5 separate regions of the Homo sapiens genome follow, and regions 2, 3, 4 and 5 are each linked to region 1. The links come from fine-mapping of genetic effects on gene expression. A gene starts in region 1. Each other region holds a variant in brackets. All regions are shown on one strand. Distances are from middle to middle.

Region 1 (4,000 bases):
TCATCCATACACCCACCCATCCATCCATTTATCTACCTACCGATATATCCATCCAGCCATCCATCCATCCATCCATCCATCCATCCATCCATCCATACATACATACATGTATTTATTAATTCATCCATCCATTCATTTACCCACCCATCCACCTGTCTATCCATTCATCCACCACCCTTTAGTCCTCAGAGGTTGAGATGCATATTTGGGAGACACTCTCGGGAGGTACCCCTGCAGGAAAGAACAGTAAGACCAACAGTCTGGAGGGCAGAGAGAAGTGGAGGTGTGCCTGGGGTGGCACCAGTGTCTGAAGCCAGCATGGGGAAAGACAGTAGAGGGTGCATGGCAGGGAGAGGCCTGCCAGGGCTGGCCCAGGCAAGCACACTTGGCCCACTAGCAGTCAGGGCAATTATTAATAACATTTCTCCAGGAGGCAGCGACCTCCCTCAGCCACTGGGATCCCCGTGCCCTTTGGGATTGCCACAGTCTGCTAGGTGTGGAACTGGGTGAGAGAAGGAGGGGGATGCCACCATGGATGGGTCAGGAAGACCCCGGCGCCCTCACTCCCACAAGAAGGACCTGTCCTGAGCCCTGCAGGCAGATTGGAAGCCTTGGGGGAGAAGGCGGCACCCCAGGAAACAGCCCCAAGTGTCCAACCTTGAGGGGGGAAAGATGCTTAACACACAAGGCTCTCCATCCTTCCATCTCTCTCTGTGATGACACAGAACCCCCACCCACCCACCCACCCCTGAGAGCCTAAAGCCCATCCTCCTTCCCTTTCCCTGGACTGACCACTCACTGCCACTATCTCCAGGATACCTCGTGGGCTGCCTCTCGCCCCCTCCCTGCTGCTGGTCTCCAGCCATGCCTGGCCCCTGAAGGCGCTGGGACCTTGAGGTGTGGCCAGCACTGCTGTGGGCATTCTACAGGCACTCAGTGCATCTCAAGAGCCATTGAAAAAGTCAGCACCCCGCTGATCCCCAGTGTACAGAGAAGGAAAGTTTATTTATTATTATTATTATTGAGATAGAGTCTTGCTCTGCCACACAGGCTGGAATGCAGTGCTGCAATCTCGGCTCACTGCAACCTCTGCCTCCTGGGTTCAAGCGATCCTCCCACCTCAGCTCCTAAGTAGCTGGGAGTACAGGTGCCCATCATCAAGCCTGGCTAATTTTTGCATTTTTAGTAGAGATGGGGTTTCACCATGTTAGCCAGGCTGGTCTCGAACTCCTGACCTCAAGTGATCCACCCATCTTGGCCTCCCATAGTGCTGGATTTTCAGGAGTGAGTCACCGTGCAGGGCCTGAGATTATTAAAAGTATATGGGAAGGCTGGGCATGGTGGCTCATGCCTGTAATCTGAGCACTTTGGGAGGCCAAGGTGAGTGGATCATTTGAGCCCAGGAGTTCGAGACCAGCCTGGGCAACACAGCGAGACGCTGTCTCTGTAAAAAGTATACACCAAAAAAATTAACCAGGCATGGTAGTGTGCACCTGCAGTCCCAGCTACTCAAGGGGCTAAGGCAGGAGGATCACTTGAGCCCAGGTGGTCAAGGCTGCAATGAGTTATGATTAGGCCACTGCACTCCAGCCTGGGACACAGAGTGAGACCCTACCTCAGTAAATAAATAAATAAATAAATAAATAAATAAATAAATAAATAAATAAGTAAAGTATACGGAAGGATGTGCATAGGTTATATGCAAATACTTTACCATTTTATATCAGGAACTTGAGCATCTTTGGATTTTGGTATCTGCAGAGGGTCCTGGAACCATTGCCCCGTAAATATGGAAATGACTGTATACATTATATTATGTATGTCTATCTATTGTAAACTACATACATAAGATACTATACTATGTATACCTATTAGATACATACTTGCTTTTTATTCCTTCCTTAGTTTTTTTTCTCATTGAACTCCGGGAGGTGGAAAAAATTTAGTGCATTTCACAGAAGAGAAAATCTAGACCAGAGGAAAGATGTCTAAGTTCGATCCCAGAAGCCATGACTGCCCATCTCCCATTTGACAGCAGGAAAGACTGAGGCACAGAGAGATGAAACCAACCCACACAGCAGGCCCACAGCTCTCCACACATACACGTGCCTCCACCCAGCAAGAGGAGCCGCCATGCCAGGGTCAGGGGACTCACCGCCCTGCCTGGACAGCAGGAAGAGGAAGAGGAGGGGGACCACCCAGGTCACCAGCGGCTCCATCGGATCCACGTAGAGCCCCACAGCCCCAGGGGAGCCTCTCTGCCACCTGCGAGGTTCAGCCACCCCGTCCCCACTCCGGAACACATTGAAGCTGAGCAAGGAGAAAAGACTGAAAAAAAAGAAAAAAGAAAAAAAGTAAAGTGTCACAGCCCATCCCTAAGGCAAGTCAAAGTGAAAGAGAAACCCAGGAAGTCAGCTCCGTGGTGGTGGTGATGGTGGCGGCCACAGACTCTGGAGCAAGTCTGACTTTGGAGCAAGTCAGGGTTCTAGGGGGTTCTGCCCTGCTGGCCCCAGACCTGAACTGAACACCCAGATGCCAGCCCCATGGGCCCATGGGCCACCTGTGGTTCCATGCACTTGGCCAGGTCTCTGGCCCTCTCTAGCCAATTTTTTTTTTTTTTTTTGAGATGGAGCCCTGCTCTGTCGCCCGGGCTGGAGTGTGGTGGCATGATCTCCACTCACTGCAACTTCTGCCTCCCGGGTTCAAGCAATTCTCCTGCCTCAGCCTCCCGAGTAGCTGGAATTACAGGCAACTGCCACAACATCGAGCTAATTTTTGTATTTTTAGTAGAGACAGGGTTTCACCATGCTGGCCAGGCTGGTCTCGAACTCCTAACCCTAAGTGATCCACCCACCTCAGCCTCCCAAAGTGCTGGGATGACAGGCGTGAGCTACCGTGCCTGGCTGCCAAATTCTTTTTTTCTTCTTTTGAGATAGGGTCTTGATCTGTGGCCCAGCTGTAGTGCAGTGGTGCAATCACGGCTCACTGCAACATCAACCTCCCCAGGCTCAGGCCATCCTCCTACCTCAGCCTCCCCAGGAACTGGGACTACAGGCATGCACCACCACGCCCAGCTAATTTTTGCATTTTTTTTTTTTTAAGAGAGGGGGTTTTGCCATGTTGCCCAGGCTGGTCTCAAACTCCCGGGTTCAAATGATCCGTCCGCCTTGGCCTACCAAAATTCTGGGATCACAGGCGTGAGCCACCGCACCGGGCCATCTCGCCAGCTTCTGAATCTGAGACTCAAGAGCTGAAGGAGGGCAGTGTTCTTGGATGGCCTAATTTCATCCTTCCAACAAATTGTTACAAAGAGCTTGCAGCATGCTGGCCCTCCACAATGCCCACCTCCCCACATGCCAAGCTCCAGCCTTGTGCACCTGGGCTCACCCCTCTAATCCCAGCACTTTGAGAGGTCGAGGTGGGAGGATCACTTGACCCCAGGAGTTTGGGTCTACCTAAACAACATAGCAAGACCCCATCTCTATAAAAAATAAAGAATTAGGCCAGGCGCGGTGGCTCACGCCTGTAATCCCAGTACTTTGGGAGGCCAAGGCAGGTGGATCACGAGGTCAGGAGTTTGAGACCAGCCTGACCAAAATGGTGAAACCCTGTCTCTACTGAAAATACAAAAATTAACCGGGTGTGGTGGCAGGCACCTGTAATCCCAGCTACTGAGGAGGCTGAGGCAGGAGAATCGCTTGAACCCAGGAGGTGGAGGTTGCAGTGAGCCGAGATCGCGCCACTGCACTCCAGCCTGGGCAACAGAGTGACACTCCATCTCAAAATATATATATATATATAAATTAAAAGTTAGCCAGTCGTGGTGGCACACATCTGTATTCTCAGCTACTCAGGAGGCTGAGGTGGGAGAATGGCTTGAACCCAGGAGGTTGAGGCTGCAGTGAATCGTGATTGTGCCACTGCACTCCAGTCTGGGTAACAGAGCAAGATCCTGTCTCTTAAAAAAAAAAAAAAAAAAATTTAAGAGATGCAACTTAGT
Region 2 (4,260 bases), 200 kb after region 1:
GCACCTGTAATCCCAGCTACTCAGGAGGCTGAGACATGAGAATCGCTTGAACCCGGGAGGCAGAGGTTGCAGTGAGCTGAGATTGTGCCACTGCACTCCAGCCTGGGAGACAGAGTGAGACTCCAGTCTCAAAAAAAAATAAAAAATAAAGGTGAATGCAACAAAAGGTTGCTTGTGTGGGTGGTCTCTAGCCTCAGTTTGTCTGCCTGGCCAGTGGGCATGCGTTACTCCTTTTCTATCCTCCTTACTCACCTGGCTCTGCCCCCAACTGGGGCATGAAGGCCATAAGGGAGGCTGTCCTCATCACCAAGAGAGGTGGCCTGTCGGCCACACGCGGTGACTCCTGCCTGTAATCCCAGCACTTTGGAAGTCTGAGGCAGGCATTTGAGGTCAGGAGTTTGAGACCAGCCTGACCATCATGGTGAAACCCCATCTCTATTGAAAATAAAAATTAGGCTGGGCGCAGAGGCTCACGCCTGTCATCCCAGCACTTTAGGAGGCCAAGGCAGGCTGATCACGAGGTCAGGAGATCAAGACCATCCTGGTTAACACGGTGAAACCCTGTCTCTACTGAAAAATAAAAAAAAAAATTAGCCGGGCATGGTGGCGGGCGCCTGTAGTCCCCAGCTACTCGGGAGGCTGAGGCAGGAGAATGGCATGAACCCGGGAGGCAGAGCTTGCAGTGAGCCGAGATCACACCACTACACTCCAGCCTGGGCAACAGAGCGAGACTCCGTCTCAAAAAAAAAAAAGAAAAAAGAAAAGAAAAAAAAATTAGCCAGGTGTGGTGGCAGGTGCCTGTAATCCCAGCTAGTCGGGAGGCTGAGGCAGGAGAATCGCTTGAACCCGGGAGGTGGAGGTTGCAGTGAGCCGAGATTGCGCCATTGCACTCCAGCCTGGGCTACAGAGTGAGACACTGTCTCAAAAAAAAAAAAGAAGAAAAAAAAAATAGGCTGGGCGAGGTGGCTCACACCTGTAATAAGCACTTTGGGAGGCTGAGGCGGGCAAGTCATCTGAGGTCAGGAGTTCGAGACCAGCCTGGCCAATATGGCAAAACCCTGTCTCTACTAAAAATACAAAAATTAGCCAGGCATGGGGAGCGCACCGGTAATCCCAGCTGCTCTGGAGAAAGGAGAATCACTTGAACCCAGGAGATGGAGGTTGCAGTGAGCTGAAATCATGCCACTACACTCCAGCCTGGGCAACAGGGCAAGACTCCATCTTAAAAATAATAATAATAATAATAATAATAATAATAATAATAATAATAAAGACCTGGCCTGGCAGGCCTGGGATTCAAATTGCCAGGGCAGGGAACTGGAGGTGTGGGTTTGTTTTGTCTCTAGATTGGTTAGGAAGGTGTCTGTCTGCCTATTGGAGTGTGTGTCTGTGTGTGCACCTGTGTCTGTCTGTATTCGTGTTGTATAGACAGACGCAGGTACACACAGATACATACTCAGATCCATGGGTCTCTGTGCTCTCTAGCCCAGGTTCTATCCTGGACAAAGAGATCCCTAGTGGGACAAGATCCAGCCCGCAGACCTGTAGCCAGCCCTGCCCTGGGAACCCCTCTCTGGGTCCCGTGCAGTGGGGCCAGAGTGGAGGAGACGGGGTCATGCCTCTCCCTGAGGCAGGAGGTGAGTGGGCGGCCTACAGAGGCCCTGCCCTGAACTTGGGCCTCAGCCTTGGCAGCTGGGGAGATGGTCTGGTGAATGGTAGGCTGAGACAGCCTGAGCTGAGTGGAGCACTTTCCTGCAGGCAGGCAGGTGAGATACAGAGGCCTGTCAACCTCTCTGAGCCTCAGCTTTTCCTTCATGAAAATTGAGCAAATAAACCTACCTACTTTGTGGAGTATCGCGATTTTTTTTTTTGAAATGAAAGGCCTCACATATTTATTACTGAACCCAGCCAACCCACACGTTCATAACAGATTCAGAGAGGAAAACACGTCGAACTCTCCAGATAGTGGTGACACTTTCAGTTTGATATGCTAACGTGATCGTGACCTTCAGACAGCATAAATATGTGTGCCATCTCATGTGCAATTCCTTATAGACCCAGCTTGGTTCTTCTCCAGTGTCCTTTTGGAGTTGTACCTGATTTTATTTCCAGTTTTCATCCAAATCCACTGGGGAATGGGACGATTTTGCTTTTGTTTCTTGTCCAGGAATCGCTTAATCCTGAAAGTCTTGTAGGAAGATATGGCGAGAAGTGGAGTCAAGAACACACCACGATGGTGCAGAAAGGAAAAGCA[T/C]TGCGATTTTTATTGGATTTGAAGAAATAGTAAGGGGTCAGGCTGGGTGTGGTGGCGCACGCCTGTAATCTCAGCACTTTGGGAGGCTGAGGCAGGTGGATCACGAGGTCAGGCGTTCGAGACCAGCCTGGCCAACATAGTGAAACCTTGTCTCTACTAAAAATACAAAAATTCTCCCGGTGTGGTGGCGCACGCCTTTAGTCCCAGCTACTTGGGAGGCTGAGGCAGGAGAATCACTTGAACCCAGGAGGAGGAGGTTGCAGTGAGCCGAGATCGCGCCACTGCACTCCAGCCTGGGCAACAGAGTGAGACTCCAACTCAAAAAAAAAAAAAAAAGAAAGAAAAAACAAATAGTAAGGGGTCAATAAATGCTTTCTATGATTGTATTATTTGCCCAAATGTAACTGCAGTTCTTTGGTTTTGAGTTCTCTCAGCTTGGAATACCCTTACACTCTTGGCGAACTCCTACTCATCCTTCAAAACCCACCACCTTCTCCAAGAAACCCTTCCTGACCATGTCCCCTAGGACCGTCGTCAATCCTCTCCATCTGGCTAAGACCTGTCTGTCCCTTATCTGTGTCTTGTTCTGTCTCCTCCATAGAAGGGGAGGGGAGGTCTTCAGGACTGGATGGGGAAGGCCTCTCCTGGCCCCTAAGTGTGGGAAGCTGCCTTTGCCACCCCCAAGGGCTCCTTTCTTCTTTTTTTTGAGATGGAGTCTCGCTCTGTCGCCCAGGCTGGAGTGCAGTGGCTTGATCTTGGCTCACTGCAACCTTCCCCTCCTGGGTTCAAGCGATTCTCCTGCCTCAGCCTCCCTAAATAGCTGGGATTACAGGCATGTGCCAACACGCCCGGCTAATTTTTTGTATTTTTAGTAGAGACGGGGTTTCACGATGTTGGTCAGGCTGGCCTTGAGCCTGACCTCATGATCTGCCCGCCTCAGCCTCCCAAAGTGCTGGGATTACAGGCTTGAGTCACTGCGCCTGGCCTCCCTTTTTCTTTCTCTTCGCATTTTCTGTTGCTCCACCTCAATGCCCTTTCCTACCCTCTCCTTCCTCCTCCCAGCCAGAGAGCCCTCTGGGACACCCCATTCCTGTCCTTCCATTTATCCCAGCCCTGACACCACAGCAGCTGTTGGTCCAGCTCTGTTTTCCCAGAGTGGGGGTTCCTCCGGGGCAGATCTGAAGCCACTTTGGACATATGGGGCGGAGGGTGTCTCTAACGCCATCAGCTAGTCCCATACAATGAACTAGAGAGAACTTTCATTCATTCAATCCACATACACTGATTGAGCCCCTACTGTAAGCCAGGGGAAAGGGCACACATGAACAAGACCAACATCTGCACCTTTGTAGGTCCCCACACCAAGGGAGAGCCAGACCGGCGCAGTTTTCAGGAGAATCAATGGTGTCCCCGCCATAGATGGTAGTGGAGGGGGCTGATATTTTAGAGTTTGGGTAATCTGGGAGGGGTGGCCCAGGATGTAACACCAAGTGACAGACAAGCTGGACTTAATTGCCAATTATTGGGGGATCAGAGGGTTCCGGTAATAGGAACAGCCAGTTCAAAGGCCCCGGGGCAGGAACCAGTTGGACACATTTCTAGAAGGTGGGGAGGCAGGTGGGACTGGATTGGGAAGCCAGTGAGTGCCAAAGGAAGAGAAGGGGAGTGCCGAAGCCTCCACCTCTGCTCAGGAGGGATTTACCCCCAAGGCAATGAAAGTTGCAGATGAGGTTGGGGCAACACTAGGGCTTGGTCCGGGACTCTGCATTTTCACCTTTATCTCAGCAGCAGCTCCACGAGTGGTGAGGGACGTTATCCCACTTCTCAGGGCAGTGTCTGGAGGGGGCGCGCGACGTGCCCAGAGTCGTACAGGCCAGGCCAGAGAGAACCCTGCCCTCCAAGCAGAAGCCGAACCTGACGCCCCGCAGCCGCCGGGGTTTGAATCGCTGCGGCTGTAGTCCTTCCCCAGCGCAGAGATTTATTGTTTAAAGCAACCTGCAGGCCGG
Region 3 (4,260 bases), 48 kb before region 1:
GATCCTCCTGCCTCAGCCTCTCGAGTAGCTGGGACTATAGGTGCATGTCACCGTGCAAGGCTAAAACTTTTTTTTTAAAGAGATGGGATCTTGCCATGTTGCCCAGGCTGGTCTCAAACTCCTGGGCTCAAGCGATCCTCCTGCCTCGGCTTCCCAAAGTGTTGAGATTACAAGTGCGAGCCAATGCGCCTGGCCTTATCGTTGCTTTTGAGGTGAGAAGATGGAGGTCCAGCATCCAGGGCCAGATTTGAGCCCACTGGGTCCTTTGTCTCTAGCCTTAGTAGCACTGGCCATGAAATGGGACTTTAGCCAACTGCAGGTGACCAAGAGCCAACCTTGCATCTCAGGCTGCTGGGCCCCTCTGAGCTCAGCCCCGGGGGCTTGTTGCAGGAAGGCCCCTCACTTTTATTTATCCCCCCACCCCCACTGTATATGTAACTGTCTGAAACTCACTGTTAACCCCATAAGGAAAAATGTGCTGGCTGGGCACCATGGCTTATGCCTGTAATCCCAGCACTTTGAGAGGCCGAGGTGGGAGGATCACTTGAGGTCAGGAGTTCGAGACCAGCCTGGGCAACATGGTGAAACCCCGTCTCTACTGAAAATACCAAAATCAGCCGTACATGGTGGCATGTGCCTGTAATCCCAGTGTCTCAGGAGGCTCAGGCAGGAGAATCGCTTGAACCCGGGAGGCAGGGGTTGCAGTGAGCCGCGATCACACGACTGCACTCCAGCCTGGGTGACAGAGTGAGACCCCGTCTCAAAAAAAACAAAACTCATTCAACTGTACTTTATTGGATATAAGTTACACCTTAATACACTTGACTCAAAATTTATGTATTTAATATTTTATTTTGAGAATGTGAGAAAAAAAAAAGTAACGTAAGAATAAAATCCAGGCCAGGAGTGGTGGTTCACACCTGTAATCCCAGCACTTTGGGAGGTGGAAGGATCACTTGAGCCCAGGAGTTTGAGACCAGCCTGGGCAATGTAGGGAGACCCCCCATCTCTACAAAAAAAAATTTTTTTTAATTAACCAGGTGTGGCGGTGGACACTCAGAATGTTACAGAATGGTTCTTGTGACTAGGCCTTTAGTCACAGCTACCTGAGAGGCTGAGATGGAAGGATCACTTGAGCCCAGAAAGCTGAGCCTGCAGTGAGCCGTGATGGTGCCACTGCCCTCCAGCCTGGGCAACGGAGTGAGACCGTCTCAAGAAAAAAAAAAAAAAGAAGGCCAGGCGTGGTGGCTCACGCCTGTAATCCCAGCACTTTGGGAGGCCGAGGCAGGTGGATCACCTAAGGTCAGGAGTTTGAGACCAGCTTGGCCATCATGGTGAAACCCCATCTCTACTAAAAATAACAAAAATTAGCCGGACATGGTGGTGGGCGCCTGTCCTACCAGCTACTTGGGAGGCTGAGGCAGGAGAATCGCTTGAACCCAGGAGGTGGAGGTTGCAGTGAGCCGAGATCACGCCATTGCACTCCAGCCTGGGTGACAGAGTGAAACTCTGTCTCAAAAAAAAAAAAAAAAGAAAAAGAAAAAGAAAAAAATTCAAATGCTTTATACAAAGTCTTCTGTTTTGGAAAACTCGTGTTATTAGTTCCAGCTCTGGAATGATGAAGAGTGGTCTCTTGCTACATACCCTAGCTATCCAGATGTGTCTGTTCATGTTCTTTTTCTTGCTTCAAAATAAAACACATCTGTGTTTTAAGTTACAAGTATTAACTTGCTATATTCAAAGAATTCATGAAACATATGTGAGCATACCATTAAAGAAACACAGAAAAAAAGGAGAAAGCAGTCAATTTATTTATTTATTATGGAGACAGGGTCTCAGTCTGTCACCCAGGCTGGAGGGCAGCGGTGCAATCATGACTCACTGCAGCCTCGACTTCCTGTCCTCAAGCGATCCTCCCGCCTTAGCCTCCCAAAGTGCTGGGATTACAGGAATGAGCCACCACACCCAGCCTTAAAGCAGTCAGTTTAGAAGTGGAGATAGTATGGGTTACAGCCATACTGAATCAGGCACCATGGCTCCGGTTCCATGCGTAATAGCCCTGGAACTATCAATCTGGATAAAACAGTCCTTTTTATTTATTTTTTTTGGTAGA[G/A]ATGGGATCTTGCTATGTTGCCCAGGCTGGTCTTTTTTTTTTTTTTTTGAGATGGAGTCTCGCTCTGTCGCCCAGGCTGGAGTGCAGTGGCATGATCTCAGCTCACTGCAAGCTCCGCCTCCCAGGTTCACGCCATTCTCCTGCCTCAGCCGCCCCAGCAGCTGGGACTACAGGTGCCCACCACCACGCCTGGCTAATTTTTTGTATTTTTAGTAGAGACGGGGTTTTACCATGGTCTCGATCTCCTGACCTTGTGATCCGCCCGCCTCAGCCTCCCAAAGTGCTGGGATTACAAGCATGAGCCACCACGCCTGGCCTGCCCAGGCTGGTCTTGAACTCATGGGCTCATGCAATCCTCCTGCCTCAGCCTCCCAAAGAGCTGGGATTACAGGTGTGAGCCATGGTGCCCATCAGTCTGAGACATACAGATGCGTGCCTCAGTTTCCTCACCTGTACAATGAGGTTCATCACCCCCTTGCACATGGGGTCATTGTGAGGACAGGGTGGGTTGGGCCTGGTGCAGTGGGCATTGTCAGAGCGGGAGAAATAAGTCCCAGGTTGGATTTAGTGTCTTTTGTCTTCTCAGCTGTGTTCATTTGTTTTACACTGGTGTGAGCCAACCTAAAGTCTCACTCTGACATCTTGTCATCATCCAAATGGCCAACTGCTAATCATCAAGCACTTCCCTGCCAGCGCAGCGAGGCAGCAGCAGTGATGTCCCAGGATCAGCCAGTTCCTGGTCACATCTCATTGCACACCTGCCCCTTTGAAATGTCCAGTCCTGGGGCTGCTTAGATTCTAGAACAATCTTGGGAGCGAGGAGCCCAGGCCAGGGTGGCATCCTGTGGTCTTGATCCCAATACCATGCTGTTCCAGGGTCACTTGGAAGCTGGACTCAGTATCCCAGTCGGGGAGCTGGTGGCTCAGGCAAAGGGACGCAGAGGAGCCCTGTTGCAGACTCAGCAATGTGGCCCTAAGGGAGCTGGGTGCAGCGCAGTGGCCCACGCCTGTCATCTCAGCACTTTAGGAGGCCAAGTGGGAGGATCACTTGAGCCCAGGAGTTCGAGACTAGCCTGGGCAACATGGCGAAACCTCGTTGCTACAAAAATACAAAATAGAGCCGCGTGTCGTGGTTCGCCCTTGTAATCCCAGCACTTTGGGAGGCTGAGGAGGGTGGATCGCCTGAGGTCAGGAGTTCGAGACCAGCCTGGCCAACATAGTGAAACCCCCCTCTCTAATAAAAATACAAAATATTAGTTGGGTGTGGTGGTGGGTGCCTGTACTTTCAGCTACTTGGGAGGCTGAGGCAGGAGAATTGCTTGAACCCAGGAGGCGGAGGTTGCAGTGATCCAAGATCATGCCACTGCACTCCAGTCTGGGTGGCAAAGCGAGACTCCATCTCAAAAAAACAAAAAAATTAGCCAAGCATGGTGGCATGCACCTGTGATCCTAGCTACTCAGGAGGCTGAGGCAGGGGAATAGCTTGAACCTAGGAGGTGGAGGCTGCAGTGAGCCATGATTGCGCCACTGCACTCCAGCCTGGGAGACAGAGTGAGACCATGTCTTTAAAAAAAAAAAAAAAAAAAAAAAAAAAAAAGCAGAAATAGCAGCTGTGAGAAAATATAGTAGAATCAGGAACGTAGTGGAGAAGAAATCATCTGGTGCCATGGAAGTTCAGGACAGACCCCTGCATCAAGAAAGAGGAGACTGTGCCACTGCACTCCAGCCTGGGCGACAGAGTGAGACTCCATCTAAGTAAAAAAAAAAGGTTGGGCACGGTGGCTCACGCCTGTAATCCCAGCACTCTGGGAGGCTGAGGTGGATGGATCATGAGGTCAGGAGATCGAGACCATCCTGGCTAACACGGTGAAACCCCGTCTCTACTAAAAATACAAAAAATTAGCCGGGCGTGGTGGCGGGTGCCTGTAGTCCCAGCTACTCGGGAGGCTGAGGCGGGAGAATGGCGTGAACCCAGGAGGCAGAGCTTGCAGTGAGCCGAGATTGTGCCACTGCACTCCAGTCTGGGCGACAGAGCAAGACTCTGTCTCAAAAGAAAAAAAAAAAAGAAAAGAAAGAGGAATAAAGGAATCAAAAAGTGTTTCCAACTCTGCAGGGAAAGACACAAACTGTATTAAGAGAGATTAATG
Region 4 (4,000 bases), 20 kb before region 1:
GCGTGAGCCACCGCGTCCGGCTGACTTGTTGGATCTTTGGGCAGGTGGATCTGAGGTTGGAGGCAGGATTGGACTCTGGAGGCAGGGCTTGGACACAGGACCAAACTGAGGACTAGCTAAAGCAGGTCCTGGGCTTTCCATAAGACACGCCCACCAGTGTGCCATGTCAGTTTACCATTACCATGGCAACACCCGGAAATTACCGCCCCTGTCCACGGCAATGATCCCACAACCCGGAAGTTACTACCTTCATCCTAGATATTTCTGCATAAACCGCCCCTTCATTTGCATATAATTAAAAGCGGGTATAAATATGAGACGTAGCTGCCCTGCCTGTGGGGCGTCCCCACTCTGCAAGGAGCAGGACTTCTGCTGCTGCTCTACACGGCCACTTCAGTAAAAGTTTCTGTCTAACACCACCGACATGCACTTGAACTCTTTCCTGGGGAAAGCCAAAAACCCTCCTGGCTAAACCCTGTTTTGTGGGCTTTCCTGTCCCTCATCAGATCCCCCCTCCAGGCCTTAGTTTCCTCATCTGTGGAATGGAGACAGTCATCCCTGCTTGATGAGAGTTCAGCTGCTGCTACATGTGAGGGGCAGCTTCCCATGGATGAATCCAATACACCATAAGCACTTGGCTGGTGCCCACCCAGCCTTCTCCAGGGTCTGCAAGGGGTGATCGAGACCCTCAAGTTCAGCTGGGTGCTCATGACTAATCCCAGCACTTTGGGAGGCCAAGGTGGGAGGATAGTTTGAGGCCAGAAGTTTGAAACCAGCCTGAGCGAGGCCGGACACGGTGGCTCACACCTGTAATCCCAGCCCTTTGGGAGGCCAAGGCGGGTGATTCACCTGAGGTCAAGAGTTTGAGACCAGCCTGGTCAACATGGTGAAACTCCGTCTCTGCTAAAAATACAAAAATTTGCCAGGCATGGTGGTGGGTGCCTGTAATCCCAGCTACTTGGGAGGCTGAGGCAAGAGAATTGCCTGAACCCGGGAGGCAGAGGTTGCAGTGAGCTGAGATGGCGCCACTGCACTCCAGCCTGGGTGACAGAGACAGACTCCCTCTCAAAAAGAAAAAAAAGAAAAAATCCCAGCCTGGGCAATATAGCAAGGCCTCATTTCTACAAAAAATAAAATATTAACTGTGCATGGTGGTGTGCACCTGTGTTTCCAGCTACTAGGGAGGCTGAGGTGGGAGGATCGCTTGAGCCCAGGAGGTTGAGGCTGCTGTGAGCTATGATGGCACCACTGCACTCCAGCCTGGGCACAGAGTGAGTCCCTGTCTATAAAATTAAAAAAAAAAAAAAAAAGACCCTCAAGTCTAATTCTCTTGTTTTTGTTTTTTGTTTGTTTGTTTTCGTTTTTGTTTTTTCTGAGACAGAGTCTCACTCTGTCACCCAGGCTGGAGTGCACTGGTACAATCTCGGCTCACTGCAATCTCCGCCTCCTGGGTTCAAGCGATTCTCCTGCCTCAGCCTCCCGTGTAGCTAGAATTACAGGCATGTGCCACCATGCCCGGCTAATTTTGTATTTTTAGGAGAGACGGGGTTTCTCCAAGTT[T/G]GTCAGGCTGGTCTTGAACTCCTGACCTCAGGTGATCCGCCCGCCTTGGCCTCCCAAAGTGCTGGGATTACAGGCGTGAGCCACTGCGCCCAGCCAATTCTCTTGTTTTAAGGGTTTGATAACCAAGGCCCAGAGAAGGACGGCAAGGTGCCCAGGGTCACACAGCAAGAGAGATCACAGGCCAGGATCCTCCCTTCCTCCCCAAGCCAGGTCTGCACTGCCTCACGTACCTGACACCTGTTTGCTGTCTTCATCTCGGCAGCGGACAACATACTCCTTTAGGACGCCGGGACAGGTGCTCAGCAGGGATGGTGCCCAGTCCACAGACACAGAGTCCAAGCTATGATTCTTCACCGAGACGTGGTGCGGTGTCCCAGCTGCTGAGGCTGCAACCAGTACCATTGTCATAGTCAACACCAAGAATGCTGGTCGAGGCCTGGCACAGTGGCTCGCACCTGTAATCCCAGCACTTTGGGAGGCCGAGGTGGGTAAGTCATTTGAGGCCAGGAGTTCAAGACCAGCCTGGCCAACATGGCAAAACCCCTTCTCTACTAAAAATACAAAAATTAGCCAGGCATGGTGGCGGACACCTGTAATCCCAGCTACTCAGGAGGCTGAGGCAGGAGAATCACTTGAGCCCAGGAGGCAGAGGTTGCAGTGAGCCAAGATGGCACCACTGCACTCCAGCCTGGGCAACAGAGCAAGACCCTGTCTTTAAAAAAAAAAAAAAGCCCAGCCACGATGGCTCATGCCTGCAATCCCAGCATATTGGGAGGCCAAGGTGGGTAGATCACTTAAGGTCAGGAGTTCGAGACTAGCCTGAGGAACATGGGGAAACCCTGTTTCTACTAAAACTACAAAAATTAGCCAGGCATGATGGTGGGCGCCTGTAATCCCAGCTACTCGGCAGGCTGAGGCACGAGAATCGCTTGAACCCGGGATGCAGAGGTTTCAGTGAGCCAAGATCGTGCCACTGCACTCCAGCCTGGGCCACAGAGAGTGACTCTGTCTCAAGAAAAAAAAAAAAAAAAAAAAAAAAGGAGTGCTGGTTGAGCACTTCCTGAATGCCCAGCCTCCCACTGTCCAGAGACGGAGGTAACATTGGCCACAGAGTCAGGTGAGCTGGGTTTTAATTCTGGTTCTGCCACTCAGTCACTGTCATTTCCCTTCCCTGGGCCTCAGTTTTCTTATCTATAAAATGGACAATGCTGGCCGGGCGCAGTGGCTCACACCTGTAATCCCGGCACTTTGGGAGGCCAAGGCAGGTGGATCACGAGGTTAGGCATTTGAGACCAGCCTGGCCAACATGCTAAAACCCTGTCTCTACTAAAGATACAAAAAATTATCCAGGCATGGTAGTGCACACCTATAATCCCAGCTACTCAGGAGGCTGAGGAAGGAGAATGGCTTGAACCCGGGAGGCAGAGGTTGTATGATTGCAGTGGTGCAATCATAGCTCACTGCAGCCTCAAACTCCTGGGATCAAGTGATCTTACCACCTCAGCCTCCTGAGTAGTTGGGACTACAGGCACATGCCACCATGGCTGGCAAACTTTTTTCTTTCTGTAGAGACGGGGTCTTGCTATGTTGCCCAGGCTGTTCTTGAACTCCTGGGTTCAAGTGATCCACAAGCCTCAGCCTCCCAAAGTGCCAAAGTGCTGGGATTACAGGGGTGAGCCATTCTGTCTGCCTTAACAGCATTGTCCTTTTTTTTTTTTTTTTTTTTTTTTTTGAGACAGAGTCTTGCTCTGTCACCCAGACTGGAGTACAGTGGCATGATCTCAGCTCACTGCAACCTCCGCCTCCTGGGTTCAAGCGATTCTCCTGCCTCAGCCTCCCAAGTATCTGGAATTACAGGCACCCGCCACCACACCCGGCTAATTTTTGTATTTTTAGTAGAGACAGGGTTTCGCCACATTGGCCAGGCTGGTTTCAAACTCCTGACCTCAGGTGATCCACCCACCTTGGCCTCCCAAAGTGCTGGGATTACATGCGTGAGTCACTGTGCCCAGCCTCTATTTTTTTAAATTATTTAAAAAGAAAAAATAATGTAAACCTGCAGGTTTGGGTCACTTACCATTGCCCCCAAAGTGGTAGGTGGACAGGACCGTAGACCACAAGGTGAGCTTCTCGGGGTGCGCAGAGGCAAAGATGGTAATGTAGTAACACTTTTCCTGCCCCATTGCCCCAGACTCTCGACTCCAGCTGTAGGTTGCTGGAAGGATAAGCAAAGGCCAGGCCATTCAGTAGATTGTGTTCCCACCTCTGCACCTTTGCACTGGCTGTGCCATCTGCCAGGAACCCCCAGAAAACTCCTACTCATGTTTCAAAGCCCTTGCACCAATATCCCCTCCTCCAAGATCTCTTCCCTATGCAACACCCCCAACCCCATCCCCATCCCCCTCTAACCCAGCCCTTACTCCATGGAACCAGGGCTTCT
Region 5 (4,260 bases), 28 kb before region 1:
CTCAGCTCACTGCAACCTTGACCTCCCCAGGTTCAGGTGATTCTCCCACCTCAGCCCTCAGCCTCCCAAGTAGCTGAGACTACAGGCATGTGCCACCAAACCTGGCTAATTTTTGTATTTTTAGTAGAGACGGGGTTTCACCATGTTGGCCAGGCTGGCCTCGAACTCCTGAGCTCAAGCGATCGGCCCGCCTTGGCCTCCCAAAGTGCTGGGATTACAGGTGTGAGCCACCGCGCCGGACCCTGATTTCTTAAATGAATGAATGAAACTGAGCTGTGAAATGGGGGCTAACACCATCCTGACTCCTGGAGCTGCTGGGAGAAGCTGAGGCAATGGCTGCTCTGAGGAGCCCTGGAGTAATAGTTGCATAGCAGTTGCTCAATAAATACCAGGCCAGGGCCCAGCTAAGCAAACTTGCTGGGCCCATTGAGAAAAGGACTCCAAATCCCTTCCTATTTTATAGACGGGTAAGCAGAGGCCCAGAAAGAACCTCCTGTTGGTCATTTTCTAGGGACAGAAGAAGGACTCAAAGTGGCTTCATCAAACAGGGAACTGAGGCCGGGTGCAGTGGCTCATGCCTGTAATCCCAGCACTTTGGGAGGCCAAGTCAGGTGGATCATTTGAGCTCAGCAGTTCGAGACCAGCCTGGGCAACATGGCAAAACCTTGGCAACAAGGCTTGAGCCTGAGGCTGAGGCTGGAGGATCACTCGATCCTAGGAAGTGGAGGTTGCAGTGAGCCAAGATGGTGCTACTGCACTCCAGCCTGGGCAACAGAGTGAGACCCTGTCTCAAAAAAGAAACAAAAAATAAAAAAAAATATTTATTTATTTATTTATTTATTTATTTATTTTTTGAGACGGAGTCTCGCTCTGTCGCCCAGGCTGGAGTGTAGTGGCACAATCTCGGCTCACTGCAACCACCCCCTTCCAGGTTCAAGCGATTCTCCCGCCTCAGCCTACCAAGTAGCTGGGATTATAGGCGCTTGCCACCACGCCCAGCTAATTTTTGTATTTTTAGTAGAGACGGGGTTTCACCATGTTGGCCGGGCTTGTCTCAAACTCCTGACCTCAGGTGATCAGCCCGCCTCTGCCTCCCAAAGTGCTGGGATTACAGGCGTGAGCCACCATGCCCGGCCTAAAATATTTTTTAAAAACAGGAACCAGATGGAAAATATTGGGTTTCAGGTATGGCTGGATCCAGGAACTAATGCTTCATCTCGGTGCTGCTGTCCTCCCTGCAGGCTCCTCTCTCAGACAGGCATCCCCACGGTAGGAAGGAAAGAGGCTCCAAGCTCCAGGCTTCCCTCTGTCCAGCTCAGTCTCCCGCTAGTGGAAGCAGGGTGTGCATCTTCCCCATGCACTCTGGCAAAAGTCCCAGCTGCTGCCAGTAAACATTGCCTGTCTCCTACTTCTCGCACCCAAGGGACTGTGCATAGGGGTGGGTTTGCAGCCAACTCCAGGGGCCTCCAGGGCTCACACCTGCAATCCCAGCAGTTTGGGAGGCCGAGGCGGGTGGATCACTTGAGGTCTGGAGTTCAAGACGAGCCTGGCCAACATGGTGAAACCCTGTTTCTACTAAAAATACAAACACATTTTAGCTGGTCAGGGTGGCGGGCGCCTGTAATCCCAGCTACTTGGGAGGCTGAGGCAGGAGAATCGCTTGAACCCGGGAGGTTGCCGTGAGCCAAGATCGCGCCATTGCACTCCAGCAACAAGAGCCAAACTCCGTCTCAGAAAAAAGAAAGGAGGATAAACGCTCAAGGGAGGGCATGCCTGGTGGAGGGAACGGCTTGAGCAGAAGCTGGGATGTGGCAGATCCGGAGCGGGGCGGGGGGCATTTGCAGAACTCTGACCAGCCACCGTGTGGCTGGGGCACCGAGATCCAGGCCTCTGTTTCCCTATCTAGATGCATCGATGGGGAAAGGGAGGCCCCCAGACCAAAGGGGCGGGGCCTGGGCCTCTTGCCTCCTGGCCCTATTGGCTGCCAGGGGTCTCTCCCCGAGAGGTCTCATCCTTTTTTTGCCACAAAATTCAGTAGTTCTGGGCTTTTTAACTCCCCTCCTCTGTCTGAAACCGGAAAAGTCTGTTTAGCAAACGCGGTGGGAGGAGGCAGGGCGGGCCCGGCCGGGGAAACGCGCGCCGCTGTTGCCACCTGGTGGCCATGGGGAGAATCTGGACTACCCGCTAATCGCCAGGGCTGGGGTGGGATTTCAGGAGCCCCCCCCCACACCTCGGCTCAGACCGCAGTGGGGATCAGGGGGAGGCGGCTGCAGAACGCGAGGGAGGTGGGGCAGTGTGGGCAGAAAGAGGGAGGATTCAGGGTGTGTAAGGGGGGCAAGGGTCCTGCTGCGAGTTGGTGGGCGTGAGGAGGAAGGAGCGTGGGGGCAAACCACGGTTCCTGTTACCGGAGTGCCCGGCTGCTCCACTCCCCCTAGGCCGTCCCTTCCCCTGCTCAGTCCTAACTTA[G/C]TAGGGTTCCAAGCTCTCATCCGGCTCTGTCTCCCCCGGATTAGGTGCTCCTGGAGGAGACCTAGAGGAAGAGATTAATAAATATATGTGGAATGAATGAATGAATGAATGAATGAATTCCAAGGCTCGTGTTTTGAGATTTTGAGCAGGACATTCAAGCTTCAAACAGGAAAAAAATACCCAAGAGGAGGCTCATTTACGATGATTTTGAACAGCTGTGTAAGGTCATTATCACCACCCCCATTTTATAGGGGGGTGAGGGTGGGGTGGGGGGTGGGATGGGAGGACCGTCATTTTTCCCACAAAGTTTACAGCCCCCTTCCCTATATGCCTGGATCCTCCAAGCTACAAGACCCCGCAATGCTGCAGGGAGCCCTTGAGTCCAGACTCCCCATCCAGTGCTCCTGGGGGTGGATGCCCAGCCCAGGGTCCAGGGATCCATCTGAGCCCCCCTTGCCCCCATTCCCAGTCCATTCTACGCCAGAACAGGTAAATGGCAGGGTCTGCTCCTGCCCCACGGATGCCAGGCCCAGCAGGGTGCAGCAGCTTCCATTTCATGGCAGCATCTAGGGTTCCCCCGCAGGATGGGTGGCAACAGGCACGGGGCAGAGAGGAGGCAGGTGCACTGGAGCCTGGAGGAGCTCTGGGTTATTTGGGTCCAAATGTGACTCCTGTGTGTGCTACGTAGCCTCGGGCGAGTCACTCACCCTCTCTGAGCCTCAACGATCACATCTGTAAAGTACAACAGTCATGGTTCCTTTCAGGGGGTGGTTGTAGGGATTTGGTAGGGAATCATGTGAGTGGATGGAATGGGCTGGGTATGCCATAAGTGCTTAATAACCAGCCGTTGTGATTGAGATAGTCGCTCTTCGTGTCTGTAAGACAAAGTGGATGTTTTCGTTTCTCCCTCAGGCCTCCAGGCCCTGATATCCCAGGAGCGATGGATGTCTAGCCCCCCCACCCCCCGGGCAGGGTTGCACCCCTGACCGTCTGGCCCACTGGGCCCCAGGACCTTGGCCTTGCACCTGTCTCCATCCTCCAAGGACAACTCTGTATCCAGGGCCAGCTCAGGGGCACCCTCAGGTAGCTCTGTCTTCTCGAGAGGCTCAGTCCTCTCGCCTTTGTCCCAGGACATCTCTACCACCAGGGCCTCCTGCAGGGATGCCTCTTCCTGGAAGTCCACTGGGTTGATCCACTGCCAAGTCTGCAGAGGGAGGGTAGGGCCACAGCTGTGAGCAGAGCTCTACTTCCCATCCACAGCAGGATGGAACGGACCAGGTCACTGCTGGTTAAATTCTCTAACATCCTGAGACCTGGACGGGTGCAGTGGCTCACACCTGTCATCCCAGCACTTTGGGAGGCTGAGGCGGGTGGATCACTTGAGGTCAGCAGTTTGAGACCAGCCTGGAGAACATGGCCAAACCCCATCTCTACTAAAAATACAAAAATTAGCTGAGCTTGGTTGCGCACGCCTGTAATCCCAGCTACTTGGGAGGCTGAAGCAGGAGAATCGTTTGAACCCGGGAATCAGAGGTTGCAGTGAGCCGAGATGGCGCCACTGCACTCCAGGCTGGGTGACAGAGCGAGACTCCATATATCCTGAGACCGATTTGAGGATGGAGTCTGCCGCACTGACTCCCATTCAGCCCCTCTTAGGAAGAGCACTCCCATCTGTCTTTGGGAAATTTCCCTCCCTCTTTTCACAGATGGTGTGGTTGACAGTGCAGTGACCCCACCTCAGCTCTAGCAATGGTCATGTGACCCTGGCCAGCCCACCCATCAGACCCTTCCCTA

The links.
Region 2: its variant is fine-mapped to the expression of IL12RB1 in whole blood (TOPMed, PIP above 0.99).
Region 3: its variant is fine-mapped to the expression of IL12RB1 in whole blood (INTERVAL, PIP 0.98).
Region 4: its variant is fine-mapped to the expression of IL12RB1 in testis (GTEx, PIP 0.98).
Region 5: its variant is fine-mapped to the expression of IL12RB1 in whole blood (TOPMed, PIP above 0.99). The same link has a PIP of 0.9 or more in blood mononuclear cells.

The regions. Positions count from the first base shown.
Region 1 is chr19:18,084,605-18,088,604 of GRCh38, forward strand. IL12RB1 (interleukin 12 receptor subunit beta 1) reads right to left here and starts at 2,330. Exons shown (of 17, transcript NM_005535.3): 1 at 2,156-2,330. The coding sequence starts at 2,219. RefSeq lists enhancers at 2,242-2,591, 2,602-2,661.
Region 2 is chr19:18,283,294-18,287,553 of GRCh38, forward strand. It overlaps LOC124904652 (a long non-coding RNA gene), which reads left to right. Exons shown (of 2, transcript XR_007067154.1): 2 at 2,168-2,640. It also overlaps the pseudogene RPL39P38. Among named protein-coding and RNA genes, the nearest start is that of MIR3188, 3.3 kb to the left of the region's middle. The variant T/C (reference allele first, on the strand shown) is at 2,255.
Region 3 is chr19:18,036,059-18,040,318 of GRCh38, forward strand. No RefSeq gene overlaps it. Among named protein-coding and RNA genes, the nearest start is that of ARRDC2, 30 kb to the left of the region's middle. The variant G/A (reference allele first, on the strand shown) is at 2,114.
Region 4 is chr19:18,064,752-18,068,751 of GRCh38, forward strand. IL12RB1 (interleukin 12 receptor subunit beta 1) reads right to left here. Exons shown (of 17, transcript NM_005535.3): 11 at 3,638-3,775; 12 at 1,791-1,946. Among named protein-coding and RNA genes, the nearest start is that of IL12RB1, 20 kb to the right of the region's middle. RefSeq lists an enhancer at 108-402. The variant T/G (reference allele first, on the strand shown) is at 1,561.
Region 5 is chr19:18,056,416-18,060,675 of GRCh38, forward strand. It overlaps IL12RB1 (interleukin 12 receptor subunit beta 1), which reads right to left. Exons shown (of 17, transcript NM_005535.3): 16 at 3,479-3,670; 17 at 2,580-3,198. The coding sequence ends at 3,193. Among named protein-coding and RNA genes, the nearest start is that of IL12RB1, 28 kb to the right of the region's middle. The variant G/C (reference allele first, on the strand shown) is at 2,467.